2 separate regions of the Homo sapiens genome follow, and region 2 is linked to region 1. A link means that fine-mapping ties the variant in region 1 to the expression of a gene that starts in the linked region. Tissue or cell type: atrial appendage. Region 1 holds a variant in brackets; the other region holds the start of a gene. All regions are shown on one strand. Distances are from middle to middle.

What was found. PIP is the estimated chance that this variant, and not a neighbour inherited with it, causes the effect. A credible set is the group of variants that fine-mapping cannot tell apart.
Region 2: it holds the start of SPINK5, and the variant in region 1 is the best candidate, but not a certain one, in a credible set for the expression of SPINK5 in atrial appendage (GTEx, PIP 0.90).

What each region holds. Positions count from the first base shown.
Region 1 is chr5:147,963,383-147,968,540 of GRCh38, forward strand. No RefSeq gene overlaps it. Among named protein-coding and RNA genes, the nearest start is that of C5orf46, 59 kb to the left of the region's middle. The variant A/G (reference allele first, on the strand shown) is at 2,114.
Region 2 is chr5:148,061,166-148,066,323 of GRCh38, forward strand. SPINK5 (serine peptidase inhibitor Kazal type 5) reads left to right here and starts at 2,815. Exons shown (of 33, transcript NM_006846.4): 1 at 2,815-2,934; 2 at 4,182-4,207. The coding sequence starts at 2,880.

The DNA of each region.
Region 1 (5,158 bases):
TAAGTTTTTGTTAATACAAGAGAATTTAAAGAAAAAGGTAAAAAATAGTAAAGGTGATTCTCAGACATGTTACAAATGAAGTGATTTTGTGAAAATCATATTCTTTAAAGACAGTTCTATCAGTTTGTGTGACCTTGAACACATTCTTAACATGGTGATACTTAATTTCCTCACTTCCTGACAAATGAGGATAACACTAAAGCTGTTTAATAATTTTGTGGCAAGGATTCAAGATTTCAATACATGGAAAGTATTCAGCCCGGTGTTCAGCACACAGTGAGAATGCAATAAATCTGAACTATTGTTTTTACTTTTCATCGATAACAGTGAGAACTCTTGAACCATGGAAAGCTGCCTTGCAGAAAGCTCATCACTGAAGATTTGTAAACAGGACCAGGAGGACATTTATCAGGGATGCTGCAAGGGAGATTCTCACATAGGTAAGAGCCAAGCTAGTGCTTTGAGGTCCTTCCAACCTGGAGATTCCAACCCTGCTTTTCAGTGAAATCCAAGGGACTTGGAACCAGAGTTTTCCTCTTATGTTTTGAGAGGACACTTAGTTACTGATCATCGGCATTGAAAAGCCATTGCTCTGTGAACACTATTGTTGGCTGTGACACCGAGACTTGGCCTTTTCATCACCCACATCACTGTCAAGAAGAGCTGTTTGAGAACCACACAGCTATTGTCCCATAGTTCTTGCCCAACCAGGAAAATCCCTATTCTGTCCTCACATCCTTCCTCATAACCGTGGGAATTGCTGTGAGGGTTTCTCATGGGTACAGAGAGGAACCATCCTGTCTCACTCTCAAGTGGAAACTGGCCTTTTCCCAGTGGAGGATACTGGCAGGCAACCAGTTCCACACTGAGAGCCCTGGCTATGGGAAATCCTTCTTCATACAAGCTGAAATATGCTTCTCTGCAGCTTTCACCCACATGTCCTAGTTTCATCTCCTCGAACCACAAAGAACAAGTCTATCCAGTGCCCCCCATGTAAACCCCTCAGAATTCTGTAGACTAAAGGAGCATTTGCCCTGTTGTTTTTGTTCCCCATTGTTCCACAGACACACATTGTTCCTTCTGAGCATAGTTTCCAGCCCCCACCCCTTCCTTATCACTGACATCATTTCTAACACAGTTCCTCTTTGCCCTTTTTGCATGCCAGAGATTGTGGACTCTGGGCTCCTTTTTCTTTATAGAGGGACAGACACTCTCAGTAAACAGTTCAACTGCAAAGGATCCAGCAAATATACTCATTTGAAGCCTTCAGTGACAGATCATGATGTGTTTGCTGCTCTTTAGGGCTCTGGTCCCTTTCTTACTCTGTGCACACTTCCAAGAAATCTCCTCCAGTCCACCTGGTTTTATTCCATCAACTGAAGATTCTAGTATCTAATTCTAATGTTGTTTCTCTTCTGAGTTCCAAGATTGTGTACAATAGGCTCCTGAATATCCACACATAAATATCTCACAGGTGTTTCAATCTCACTGAGTTCAAAACTGAACCTACTCACTTTCTCCCAGTTTCTCTATCTCTGCAGTGGGGATATTAATGATACTTAAATCACAAGGTTGTTTTAAAGATTAAATAAATAAATGTGTGTTAAGCACTTAAGATAGTACCTGATAAAAAATAGATAGTATGTATATTGCCATTATTGGTGGGCACAGAAAAACAAGCAAAGATAAAATATGCTGGTGCTGATATTTTATGAGGAAAAAAAACATGAAGCATGAGAGGCTGAGAAGTGCCAATAGAGACAGAAGGATACCACAAGGCAATTTTGGAAAGCGGTTGTAATATGTTCTCGATGCATTCTTCTTGTAGAAAACAAATGTCTAAGAAAATTATTGATAACTCACTAAGTATATATATATATGTCATTATCGTTGGTTGGCCATTCTGAGTGTTTTTCAGTTGCTCAACATGCTCAGCATGAGGGGCCTTCTGTTCTATGGCTAAAGTCACTTCTAGGGTCAGTATCTCTTTTTCTGGGCTTCTCAGAGGAAGTGAGTTCATGGTGAGGTTTATATCCAAAGAAGAAAGGATCGCCTTTGGAGATGGCAGCAGTCTGCTTTGTAAGTGCTTATGCAAGTCAAGCATCAACTTGCT[A/G]TGGAGAAGCATCTCATGAACCTGCAAGAGTGGTTGGTTAGGACATGCAAAGCTGTGCTACTCAAAGTGCTGCCTACAGATTGGTGCTGATCCACAAACTGTTACTGGTCTGCAGTGTAGTAAGTACAGAACTGAGAATAAGCATAAGACATAAAGTATCTTTATGTCTTAAATCTAACAGTGGTAAAATGTAGACTTGTATTTAACATATGTGAATATATTTTCATTTAATTTAAAGCATTAAATTGTGATGAATAGAAAACAAACAAAAGAAAAAAGGAAAAAAAATAAATTAGCTCCTCATAACATATTGTTTGAAAGCATTGAGTCTGAGTGTGCATCCCTGAGTTCTGGTCCTGGCTTTGACACCACCTCATGAGAGATCCCAGGCAACTCAGTCCTCTTTGTATAAATACCACCCACTGATTGCACAACTGGAGCAATTACTCTGTGCACAGAGTAATTTCCAAACACTCACTCCTGTTTGGAAATTACTTTCCATGTATATGAATTAAGGATCTTGGAGTAGCTTATTCTTAATTTTCTTCATCTTTGAAGATGCCATAATCCTAATAATCCTTTAAAATATTTTTTAAAATAAACTGAATAAAGCTCCATTGCTTGCTTTTGAGCTAAATAATCCTGCTTTCTGATAAAAACCTAACCACAGCCTAGACTTTGACTGCTTTTCTTCAGATCTCCATAAGGAACATATTATTTTCTTTGGGTGACTATCTCCCAGCTTTCCTCTTTCACTGTGAACATCTCCTTTTCTTGCTGTTCTCAGGTCTTCCCCCAAATCAAAGTATTTTACAGGAATATCTTCCTCTGCTGTCTGTTCATGGACTTATGATCTTGAATTTTCCAAGTATTTATCTAAGACATTCTCTGAATAAAATCTAAGCAACCAGGCTTTGTAAGGAGTTTGGATTTTATTCTGAGTAATGGGAAGCCATCGGGTATTGCTAAGAAGGGGAGTGACGATATGATTTATGCTTTCAGATAACCCATGGCTGGTCTTTGGAGATTAGATTGTAGGGGTCAAATATGTGCACAGAGAATACCCTGGAGGCTAATACAGTACTGAAGGTAGGCTGTGATGGTGGTTTTGTCTATGAGACATAAAGAATAGGCCTTTATCTTGTTCTTATCTAGCTTATTCACCACTCTTGGTAGTGCTATAGTATAGAATGGTGTATATGTCTCAGATATGGCTTTGCTTAACTGGATTGGGATTGCAGTTGTTTCTGGGTAGTTATTTAACACTAATGCTAAATAATGTAACAGGAGTTAACATTAATTCACAAGAAGTTATGTCTTGAAATCATTGCCCAATGTCTCATTCATATGAGTGTATGTAATCAGAAAACATGCAGGCGAAAGACTGTTGATGCAGGGTTTCAGATGGAAAAAGCTTCCTATCCTTCTGTCTTTTCACTTTGAAAACAAAGGTGGCAAACAAGATTTCTGCACTCTAAAGGCCATCCCAGACAATGTGCTGGTTTGTTGAAGCAGCCCTGGGGCTGCTGAGGAGATGAAGAGGTCTGCCTTTGGGAATCAACTGCCTTCAGTCACGCAGACCCATAGACCGTGCATCAGCTGACTCAGCAATAGATGGCACTGAGCTATTCACTCCATTTCACCTTGGGCTGTATCTAGGCATTTCACTGAGAAGTGAAAGAGTTAGGAAAAAAATTAAGGACTATATCCCGGTAAAATCATTCTAGTAATAGAATTGGTTGGAGATTTCTATCTGGGGAAATGTTCAGCTTCATAGATGACCACGATCAGCAACCACACTGAGAATAATTTAGGATAAGGGAAGAATCCATGAAATACATAAAAAGAGGCAGTGGGAAGTGATGTAGATCCCCAACTTTGAAGTTTGAACCAAGATTCAATTCCCCTGTCTTTGTTTTGCTAGCTTCTAACTTCAGATTGTTTTCTGATTATTAGAAGCTGTATCTTTTCTGCAAAATATGATAATTTCACATTCATGGTTGATACAAGCATCAAATGAGAACTAGATGACAGTGTTTATAAACTATAAAAAGCCATGAACAGTTTAGTTATAATAATAAAGCTTCCACTGAATTGCATCTTCTTATCAATGCTATTTGTGGAATTCATACAGCTTGCTTGGTCGCAACATTGCTAAGTGAAACTTGAAAGACACTGTAAGAAAATACCTGTAGGTATCAAATTACATAATGCATAAATATGATGATTTTATGTGCATGCATGTGTGTACATGTTTGCATTATATCAGTGTTATATTCAAATTTTGAATAATAAAATTTTGATGGGGTGGGATCAGATGCAATATGGGAAGCAGGTTTGCAACCAGGGCTTTGCAGACAGAAAGACCAGTGTTCAAACATCAGTTTTCAGGGTTGGTGAGTTTAGACAAAATTGCTTAATTTGTATGATAATCTGCAAACTGGTGATAGCAATATCTATTTAACAGTGTGGATGTGAAAAAGTAATAAGGTAAAGAATATTAAACATTTTGCAAGTACTGAGAAAAAGGAGACCCCAATAAATGCTAGTTTTTTTCATTATTACCAATAATAAAACCCACTCCATGCATATGTGTGGGTAGATGGAGACTCTTGCCTGAGTGACAGTCCCTGGAATGGTACAAAGAGATGTTCACTTGTATGAGAAAGAAACATCCTTTCTTGAGTCTGCCTCTCTTGCTTTGTGGAGGAAGTGCCAGAATTTGATTATTCCTTTTCTTCCTGACTTCTTTCAGAAATGGAACAGGCCAATGGGTTCTAGGAATGTAATTTTTTAAAACATTCTAAGCTTTAGGGGTACAAATGGTTTTTGGTTACATGGATGAACTGTTCCAGTGGTGAAATCTGGGCTCTTAGTGGACCCATCACCCAAATAATGCCCATTATAACCAGTAGTTTTTAATCCCAGACCCTCTCTCCCAGCCTGTCCCATCTGAGTCTCTAATGTCCATGATACCACTCTGTATGTCTTTTCGTATCCTTCGCTTAGCTCCCACTTACAAGTGAGAACATGCAGTATTTGGTT
Region 2 (5,158 bases), 98 kb after region 1:
TTATTCATCATTTCAGAAAAGGCTGGCATCTCTGAGGAGCTCTTTTCCAGTAAGAAGGAAACCAATGTCTTCAATGTTTCCTCATAGTAGAGATTCCTAAGACAGGCAATCATCTTTTGGTTCTTCTGTTCCACCCTAGCACCACTTCCACTCCTGGGAATATTCTCCATTTGGGCTAGGCTAGGGGTCACTAGAGCATAATACACAGTCATTGATTCCATTTTAAGGCATCAAACTCTTTTACCGTCAATAACAGAATATATGGTTGGGACACATTTCGTATGGTCTGACAGGGCAGATGAAAGATAAAAAATTAGTATTGATATGTGAATATTTAGAAGAGGCTTTTAGAGAAAGAGACAAGAAATCAATGCTGATTGAAACAGAGCAATGGTTTTCGTTAAGTTTTAACAGGTGATGTTTCGATTTGTTTAGGCATTATGGTTTAAAATACAATTAAAAGGGAAAAAGAGAACATATATCGTTATAGTTTAATTTCACCTCAAATTGTGTTGGGGTAGTTTTTCTATGCTGAGTAAATATAAATCTATTGGTGAAATCCACAGTCAACAGATGTTTACTTTTCTTGGTATCTTAGAAATTATCTAGTACAACCACGTTATTATAATTATGTAAAAATGCAAGACCAGCTATCATTAACTATCAAGCTTATCACATAAACTTGATAATTGTTCTAAGCACCTCTCTCTCTCACACACACACAAACACACACGCATTATATATATGATTTATCTCTAAACCTCTTAGCACTAGTACAATGTACGTGTTATTATTTTTATTTTACATATTAGGAAACTGAGGCTTAGAGAAAATAAGTGACTTGTCCAAGGCAACATGGCTAACAATTCAAGATTTGGACCCATTTCTAGCTTGCTTCAAAGCTGGGTTCATTTCTATCCCTACATAGTTGAAAAGACTACATAGAATAGAAACAGATTTCTGAAACCCTGTCTCATTCTCTTTCCATTAAGCTATGATGGACTTTGATTTTCTAACCTGTAACAATAATGGAATTTGAACTTGCTTTCCGTGGTCACTAATTTTACTATTCCATTGGAAAGGAGCCAAGCTACAACAATAGTGCAGACCTTGAAACCAATGATTTTATATATATATATATATGTGTGTGTATATATATGTATGTGTGTGTGTGTGTGTGTGTGTGTGTGTGTGTGTATATCTTTTTTTTTTTTGATGGAGTTTTGCTCTGTCGCTGAGGCTGGAGTGCAGTGGCGCCATCTCAACTCACACACCCTCCGCCTCCCGGGTTCAAGCAATTCCCCTGCCTCAGCCTCCAGAGTAGCTGGGACTACAGGTGCGTACCACCAAGCCCATCTAATTTTTGTATTTTAATAGAGATGGGGTTTCACCATCTTGGCCAGGATGGTCTCGATCTCCTGACCTCATGATCCGCCAGCCTTGGCCTCCCAAAGTGCTGGGATTACAGGCGTGATACACTGTGCCTGGCCCAGTGATTATATTTTTATAGGAAATAAATTATTTCATGAGAGAAAAAAGAAAGGACGTATTATCTCACTGTGATAAATCTCATAATATTGGCATACTCCCTAAGTTGGGCAACTTTGATCAGTTTTCTGGAACCATCATAAAAAGGCCTTTAATTGGATAAAGTCTCGAACTTTTCTTCTGTGGATGTGAATATCTTGAGAAGTACTGGAATGAAACAATTTGGCTCTGGTTTCAGTCATCTTCACATGTTTCTTCAGGTGCTTTCTTAAGCTATTAGGGCAAAATAAGCTGGTAGAAAAAAGGTGTTACTTGTAGGATGAAAGAAGCAACTAAAGAGAAGAAACTTTCTCTAGAAAAATGTTACATTTACACATTTATAATTGTTAACAACTTTTTTCTTCTTTTCTTTTTGGGAGACTAAATAATGGGATGATACAGGAAGAAATATGATTTAGAGAAAACTGATTGAGCCAAATTTTTCAAACGGTAATATGGGTAATCATAGGCTATGGAAAGTTAAACTGAGTCTCCAATGTTTATGATTATGATGTTTGGCTAGGATATAAAATAAGGCTTCAGAATATAAAATATCCTGCAGATTGAGAAGTTTTAAAAGTAGTTACATACAAGTTTTATTTTTCCAACGTTCCTGCCTTTTCTAATGTCTAAGGATGAAGCAGTGTACAGAGAGGAAAGAATGTTATATGTGTGGTCTGCTTGCAAGTGCTGGATGCCTCCTCTGCCTGCTCCAACTAAACTGTCTGCTTATGAGAAAGTCATTGCTCCTCTGAGTTCCTGCCTCCCTATATATTCAACATTAGAATTTTGCCAGGTTATCTTTTAGGGTCGTTCAACTCTAACATATATATGAGTCTGTGACACTGAACTCAGACACTTCAGAACAGGAACCCTGGATTTCTCTGGATGTGGAAATCTTTAAATCTATACCTGACTGGTAGGACAACCAATCTGTCTTCCTTTCCTCTCCTCTCCCACTTATGAAGGGAGTCCAGTCAGAAACATGTTTGTCTACGAGGTAGTATATCTGGTATTTCTGAGGAATTCGGTTATTATATAGGATTATAGAATATTCAACTTTGAGTAGGGTCTGTGGACTCCATCAATTGCGTTCTGGGGGAGGTACCATGAAAGAACATTCCTACTTTAGAAATAGATATTCTCTGTTCAAACCTGACACCCTGACAGGATCCTAAAGGATGGAAGCTAAAGTGGTGTGGTATATAAGTCCCATGACCTTGAACAACTGGTTTTATGTGGGTGTCACCAGTGCTTTATAAAAGTAAACTGCATCGCCCCGAGTTCAGTCATACTGCACCAGCTGAGCAATGCATGGAGTGGACCTGTAGGCGACTTGCATCGTCTTCAACATGAAGATAGCCACAGTGTCAGTGCTTCTGCCCTTGGCTCTTTGCCTCATACAAGGTGAGCAATTTGTGTGTAATCTAAGCCTCTTGCCACACATCTCAAAGCCCTGGGGAAGGGACTTTTCTCCCCCTACTCCTGCCAAAAAATGTTTACGTATGCATGTATAATCCTGAAATGTCTTGCCAGACACAGAGTTCTGAAGATTTATATATGTGGCTTTATAATTATGTTGTTATCTTTAGAAATGGCAAGTAGTTTGAGATAATCTGAATTTTCTAACCATGAGAAATTCTTCCATTAATTCTTTATTAATTCAGAAAACTGAATAGATTCTTCTTCATCTTCCTCTTGCTAAATGTATCAATTCATAATGCATATTCTTATATATGTAATAGACATTTAAAACTTAATTGTAAATAATATATGTATTTTAATGTTATAGGTATAAATGAAATATTTTTTAAAATTCAATCATCTGTTCTTATTTTAAAGCAGTGGTATCTTCTAGCTTATTTTAGTCTTGTGTTTTCAAATGCTAAATGGGTTGAAAGCATTTCTCCCAAAGAGTGAGGGACTTTTGTGGGAGCTGGAAGGTAGATTTTTATATTTGCTATTTAACCCTAAGAGAACACAAATTGCCTAGACTTACGTTGCTCTGAAACATTAAAATTTTTAAAAAGAGAAACTCATAGATAGTCTGAAATCATATACAAATAATGCCCATTTTCCTAAAATAGGTGTGTAGGTACAAAAGAGCCTATGTTAATGAGAGAGTATAATAGCCTGTGACCTTAATCTTACCTTCTGTCAGATCTCTAACTTTTGCAGCTGTAATAAGGAGGTAGAGCTGCCAGAATTCAGAAAATTAAATTTTATGTATATATCCTATAAATGTAATGCTATATTATAGTTTCAACTATAATATAGTTTCAAAATTATAATTGGTATAGTATTTTGTGTGTATGTTATATTGTAATTTTAAAAGGGAGGCTGGCATTTATTACTCCGAAAGGACCTTTTGAAGATAAGCTATTTTGATGGGGTTAGAATTCACATGAGTATTATTTTCCAAAGTAATTGTAACTTTCTGAGTGATTAGACCTTTGTGAGTATATATACTAATCTCCTGGTCCAGTGCCCTTCTTTTATTTGCCATGATAAATCTTAATGTGTTCAAAAACCATTTGCGGTTTTACAACATATTGTCATTAAAGCAATCAAGATGCTGCATTAAATGGATTATTTGTTTTGTTTATTAAATATTTTACATTTCCTTAACTTTGGTTTCTATATTTTCATCCCAGATGCTGCCAGTAAGAATGAAGATCAGGTTAGTCCTGCTTTTTCTGTTCATTGAATTCATTCCAAGATTCCCAAAGAAAAGTGGTTTGTGGCCAACACCTTCATGTTAATAATACAAACATATTATACTGGTAGGTACTAATAGCTTTTGTTAAAAACACAGAAACAGATTTTTATGAATCAGGACATGAGCCTCTCTCTCACACACACACACACACACACACACACTCAACATATTAATGATGATGGATGTCTGCAAGAGGCAATTTATCATGTTAAAGGAGCATTTTAAAATTTCATAAACAAAAAATAAATCAACTGGAAAACTACTATTGTTCCATTTAACATCTCAACAAGCCATGATACACCACATAGGAAGCTGAAATAAATTTTCTAGTAATCATTATGCAAAAGAGGGTGGTCTGTATCTTGTATATAGTCGGTGTATATAGTTCATGTAATGAATATTTATTGAGCATCTCTTAGATGTCAGACCCTGTTTGAGATGCTGGGGTTATTTTTAAGTAAACAAAATAGATGAAATTCCTGCCCTGAAAATTACGTTTTAGTGTAGGAAAACAGACAAATTAATAAGTAGCTTAGCAAAACATATGGTACGTTAAATAATGATAAATGCTAGGAGAAAAATAAATCAGGAGGCATAATAGGATCCCTGAGAATGGAGGTGGTATCCATTCTCATAAGGATAATCAGGGAAGTTCTCTCTGGACAGACAGTATTAGAATAGGAATCTGAAGGTCATAAGGGAATGAACCACGAAGGTATTTGCAGTTTACAGCAGGCCAGACAGAAGCACCTGTGAGCGCAGAGGCCCTGACGCAAGAAGGTGCTTTACCAACTCTTAAACCTCTTTTGTTTGATAAATTAAAAAATCATTTTCTACTAGAAGTTAAATTTTTTAATCTATTTGAAAGATAGGATGACCAATTACTCACACACACACATTTTATATATTTAT